Linked DNA regions of Homo sapiens: region 1 is linked to region 2. The links come from fine-mapping of genetic effects on gene expression. A gene starts in region 2. The other region holds a variant in brackets. All regions are shown on one strand. Distances are between the middles of the regions. Region 1 has its middle 64 kb from the start of TOX-DT. Region 2 holds the start of TOX (thymocyte selection associated high mobility group box).

Region 1 (2,910 bases), 64 kb after region 2:
GGATTATGTCTTATTAACCAGGACAGCTCTTAAAATTAGCAGAGGGCCTGGCATAAAGTGGTCATTGGATATGTCTTTGCTAAAGAATGGAATGAAGGAGTGAGAGAGGAACTAGTAAATGTGCTTCTAATTTGTGCATGTGTATCTACTGCTGATATCTTAATCATTGTTACATTTGAAAATAGTAGCATCTCATAATTTTTTGGTATCTCTTACAGAATTTGTCACATTTTGGCCAATGAGATGCTAAATAAATATGCTTTCAGCAAGGCAATTTTTGGGGTAAAGTTTGGGCAATAGTACATATTTTTATAGGACTGATGAGATTGTGTGTGTGTATGTGTGTGTATACATATATTTGTGTATATGTATATATACATATATATATGAAGCACTTAGCCTATACCCCACATATGCTAATTGTTACTTTTACTACCACTGCCGTGGTGACTGCAAGAAGAAAAAATGTTTTCTGCTTTTGCTGTCACCTAACTTCAAAATTTCTACTTAGGACTTGTAGATAAATAATTTAAGAGAGACAAAATCACATTAGACTTTAGCTCTAATCTCTTCAGGACACTAATTCTGAGGTAAAGTTTTTGGATAATATATTTATCTCCATATCTTGCTGTTTTCTCAAAAGGTAAGCATAAGAAACAAGATCAAGAGCCAGAAATATGTACCCGCTCACTCAGCATCCAGACCACTGATGTGTTAGATATTATAGGTGGAATGTAAGTAACCCAAGAGCATGGACACTATCTGCTTGTTCATTGCTGGATCCCTAAAGCTTGGCCCATAGTAGGTCGTCAATTCATATTTTTCCAGTGAATGGTTACATCACTGGTGTTTAAATTGTAACTGTTAATGAATTTTCCTGCAGTAATGTTGTAGGTTTTCATTTCAGATGACGGTGTTGTACAACAGATAATGTTTGAAGCAAATAGGTAGGGGACATGGTAGTGGGTGACAGGCAGCAATACACCTCTATGTAACCAATAGAGAAAGTATAAAAAGGCATTTTAAAACATCTGAAGAACTGATGTTACTGTTATAAAAATTAGGCTAAGAGGCAGAAGCTGCCAGGGGCTAGTGGGCTGGGAGGGATGAATAGAGCATAGGGGATTTCAGGGCAGTGAAACTACTCTGTAGGATGCTATAATGGTGGCTGCATGGCATTATTCATTTGTCAAAACCCATAGAGGGTACATCAAGAGTGAACACTAATGTGAACTGTGAACTTCCGGTGATAA[T/G]GCTGTGTCAATGTGGGTTCATGAATTGTAACAAATGGTTAACAAATGTACCACTGTGGTTGGATGTGGACACTGGGGAAGCAGTGCCTGTGTGGGGGCAAGGGTTATATAGGAAATCTTTGTACCTTTCACATAACTTTGCTATGAACCTAAAACTGCTCTAAAAAATTAAATTTATGAAAAAAAGTTAGGCTAAATTGTAACCTCATGATAAGCCTTCCCCTAAACATTATAAAATAAAACCACTTCCCCTGGAAAATTAATAAACAAGGTTTTTTTTTTTTCTTTACCTGCTTGGTATTGGGGCTTACTCATTTCAATGACAATGGAAAAATCTATTACTTTTGCTTTCTCAGAAATTATGTTTCATTTTATAATAACTGCATAAAATGATATATGAAACTATAGGACTTTTTTGGTTACATAAGTTCAGCTCTTAATTAAACAGTTTATTCCATAAACAATAATTTAGCGTCTCAATTCCCCCAAGGTACAATGCTAAGTGTTCTAACAAATGTAGAGATTTTTATAGGAATCTGTTTCACTTGAGAGGTGGCTTGCCATTTTCAGAGCATGTACACATATATTTTCTCACTGTTCCTCACAAGCCTGGGCAGTTGGCAGAGAAGGTCTTTAAACTTCCACCTGAGACATTATTATTTATCTAAAAATTGTATTTTTGTACAGTAATAACATTAAAACAAAATAGAATTTTAAAACAAAAAATCACATATACCCAACTATCTTAATAAAATAAGTTTAATTTTTAACATTTTATCTTTTAGACTGTTCATGTTTGAATAGTAATCATTATTGGGTTTGAAGGGATATTCAGAGAAACTGCTTATTTAGAAAAGTAGAAAAAGTTATGGCAGTGAGGAAGTCAAAGTAAAATATGTCACTAATACATTTGGGAAAAGATGAGTGACTGGCACCACCCTGTCGGGAAACAGAGCACAGGAGTGGTGGACCTGGTAGAACTAAGAAATGTTTCATTTTATTTTTTTGATGCAAGAATGAGGGGACAACTCCCCTCAACAACTGTATTGAGAATACGGTTGTTAAAATGACCAGATAGAGTTAAAGATTTTGAAAGGTTGAACTCTGGATGCCCCACTTTTATTACCCTGGAGAGAAGTCCCTTCCGCTTTGTTAGTCCCCCTCCCACCCCCTCCTTTAAAAAAGTCTACCTTACAAAAGAAGTAAATAGGAAAAAGAGGAGGAAGAACTTGTATCTAGTTAGTTCTGTCTTGAAGAAAGTCAGGAGAGGACTGTAAGCGAGTTGATACTGCACTTGAAGGTTGAGGTCATGAAGAATGGGCTTTGAGGTAAGGGTGTAACAAAGCTTCTGAGGACCAAAGTGGTTTCTCCAGTGATTTTTTTTTCTTTTGAGACAACATCTTGTTCTGTCATGGAGGCTGGAGCACAGTGGCTCACATGGTTCACTGTAGCCTCCACCTCCCGGGCTCAAGTGATCCTCCTTCCTCAGCCTCCTGAGTAGCTGGGACCGCAGTCACACGCCACCATACCCAGCGAATTTTTAAAAAATTGTATGTAGACATGGGGGTCTCCCTATGTTGCCCAGGCTCGTCTTGAAATCCTGGCCTCAAGTGATCCTGCCTGAGCCTCCCAAAGTCCTAAGATTACAGGTGTGAGC
Region 2 (2,910 bases):
CTGTGTGTCAACACTGTCCAAGACTCGGAGCTGCGACTCGGTCGCGTGGTGCGGAGTCCAGGGCTGAGAAGGCAGCGCACTAAATATCTCTGTATCAGGTAAAAAAGCCGTTTGGTGATGACTCGCCACCAGGCAAATGTTGGGAGTCCCAACGATTTTTCCCGTGGAATGCACCGAGGGTCGCCATGGATGTGCCTGCAGGGGCTGTGAGTATCAGGCAGATTTATCACCAAGCGAGAGTTGGGCGTCTAAAAGGCCCGCCCAGCGTTTTAGAGAACTCAATTCTCTCTGCCAACGTTCATCCAACGGGACTGCTTAGACACGTCCAACTAGCCCTAGGCGTGGGCAGTCGTGCCCCTGCGACCACTCTGGGGGACCGGTCCCTGCGTGTCCTCCCTCTCTGGGATGAGAGAGTTCGAGAAGCCGGGAGAGTAACCCCCTCCCTCGTACCCCCTGACTGTCCTATAGGTGGACCCAGCCGAACTCCGCAGCAGCCCAGGCCAGCGCCCCACCTCCGGGTCACCGGCATGATCCGCCTCTCCCCGGGCCCCCGCGGCCCTGGCACCCGAGGTCAGCGGGCCGTGGGTACAGCTCAGCCGCGGACCCTGCTCCGCGAGTGCGGGAGCTTTGGACTTGAACGCGACGTGCTCGCCCGGCTCCCAACAAACTTGCAATTTCCGCGCGCACCCCTTAAACAGGAACTGTTCCCCAAACCTTGACCCAGCTACCCCGCTGTGCTCTGGCCCGCGGACCTGTGTCCGAACCCGGGCTCGGCTGCCGGAACCGGTTTGAGAAAACAAAAGAGTTGTGGGGCAGTTTTCCCTGTGGGGGGCAGGGGCGCCTCCCAGGTCCCTGCACCCCGACTCCCGGCTGCTCCCCTGGCAACTAATCCGGAGAAGGGAAGTGGTGCCACGAGCCCCCACTGCCCGGGGAGGGAGGGAGAGAGAAGGGGGAACTGGGAAATAAACTGAATTCTCTTACTCTGCCTCCGTTCCTGGACCCCAGACACACCCCCAAAGTATTCCACGGTTTTCTCTTATTATTTTTTTAAACGCCCCCCGGCAAACCTAGGCAGGGATCCTTAGCCGCGAACAGCAGGAAGGAAAGAATCCGAGCAAATCGTGTCACTTTCCGCACAATCGCGGTGTTTGGCAAGCCCCCGGAGCTACTCCACAATATTTACTACCCAAGCGCACGCAGGCTGCAGCGGGCTGCGAGCCGAGCGCGCCCGGGACCGGCCTCCGCCAAGCCGGCCCCGCCGCGGCCCGGCCACCGCCGCTCCCCTCCCAGGATCAAGCAGCAAGAACACGGTGGAAACAAAAGCAGAGCGTTCACCTTGTTGCAATAGTAGGGGTCCAGGCAGGGAGAAGGTCCCAGACAGGGAGCGTCGGGCGCAGCGGCGGGCTGGGCTGGAGGTGGATAAAATCTTACGTCCATTTCACTCTCACATCAAGCAACTCCTTTTCTTTTTCCTTTTTTAAAAAAAAGTGTTCAGCAAAACAAGCTTAGACGGAACAGAGTGAGGTGTCTGGGCTCAGGAGTAAAAGAAACACCTTCCTTCCCTCACATCCGTTTGTGGTTTGTTTAAGAAGAAGAGGAAAAAAAAAAAAAAGAGGGGGGAAAAGCGCTCAACTCTCCCCCAAGCCGCGGCGCGCACCCGTCGGCGCCGAGCGCGCAGCCTGCTCCACCGCCGCCTCTTGGTCCCGCCGCCGCCGCTGCCGCCGCCGCCGGGCAGGTAACTTCATGCGCTCATTGTCCCCCCCGCCCGCCCCCCCATCCCCGCCTCCCGCGCCCCTCGCAGCCCGGCACACGCGCTCGGGCTCTAGGTACTGGGCGTTTTATTGGAGATTCTGAGTTGTTCTGCTTGTAGTTTATTTTCTCCACCTTGGAGGCCCGGGATGTGGGGGGTGGGGGGGTGGGGCGGGGATCCAGAAGGGACAGGGCGGGAGGGGGGCGAGCGTCCCGGGCCGGGCGGGGTAGGGAGCGCGGCCGGACGCGGGCTCGTCAAGGCCCAATGGCTGCTGTTCGGAACCAGAGGCCGGGGACCGGAGAAAGGAGGAGCGGAGAAGGAGAAGGAGGAGAGCACGGCCTGGCTGGGACAGAAGCGGTGGGACCCTGGGAGGCCTCCGCTGTGCCCGTGCCGCGCTCCTCGGGACCAGCGCGTCGCACACAAAGGGGCTGCCGAGCCAGAGCCACCAGCGGCCTCAGGGCACCGTGGGGAGCGCGCAGCTAGGGGGCGCTGTGGCGCACCCCGCCCCGCAGCCCCGCCCCCGGCCCTCCCCGGCCCCACCCCACTCCCACCGCCCTCTCCGCGGCCGTCCCCACCCCTATCTCCGCGACCCCCACTCCTCCTCGGCTGTTCCCCAACCCTGTCACTGTGCTCCCCTCCCTACTCCCGGCCCGTAGTGGAGGTGACTTTCCTGCGCAGCGCCGCTTCTGAGGGCGGAGAACCCACAGGGAGTGCGACCCCTTTGCACGCTGTGAGTGGGCAACTGTCCGAGGGACTCGAGCCGATCGAAGGGTGAGGACCAGCTCGCCTGGGGGTGGACGGCCTGGAAAAGCCGCCCCTCTTTGGCTTCCCTCTGCCGCCTGCAGCCCGCACCCCTCCGAGATTCGTGCCCCACTGGACGGTTTGCGAAGGCTGAGGCTGCCTTGGGGACTCACAAAAGACCACAGGGGTGATTCGAAGTGTAAATAGGGAAACAATCATCAGCACACAATCCGGCTAAAGGGATAACATATGAGTTTGCTTGTTGTCCTTCATGGGATTCTTCTCTTTTTATAGCTGGACGCCCTATAGGGCTCTTGGCAGTCCACGAAAGACCTGGAGTCCGCCTCCCCATTTCTCCGGTCGGTGAGTGGCAGGAGGAAATCGCCAAACATGTTTTCCCGCTTTGCCTCCCCAACTCG

Evidence for each region. PIP is the estimated chance that this variant, and not a neighbour inherited with it, causes the effect.
Region 1: its variant is fine-mapped to the expression of TOX in whole blood (TOPMed, PIP above 0.99).

Annotation. Positions count from the first base shown.
Region 1 is chr8:59,181,669-59,184,578 of GRCh38, forward strand. No RefSeq gene overlaps it. Among named protein-coding and RNA genes, the nearest start is that of TOX-DT, 64 kb to the left of the region's middle. The variant T/G (reference allele first, on the strand shown) is at 1,254.
Region 2 is chr8:59,117,551-59,120,460 of GRCh38, forward strand. TOX (thymocyte selection associated high mobility group box) reads right to left here and starts at 1,597. Exons shown (of 9, transcript NM_014729.3): 1 at 1,336-1,597. The coding sequence starts at 1,437. It overlaps TOX-DT (TOX divergent transcript), which reads left to right and starts at 1,660. Exons shown (of 3, transcript NR_149031.1): 1 at 1,660-1,735; 2 at 2,407-2,521; 3 at 2,786-2,910. RefSeq lists a silencer at 2,122-2,341.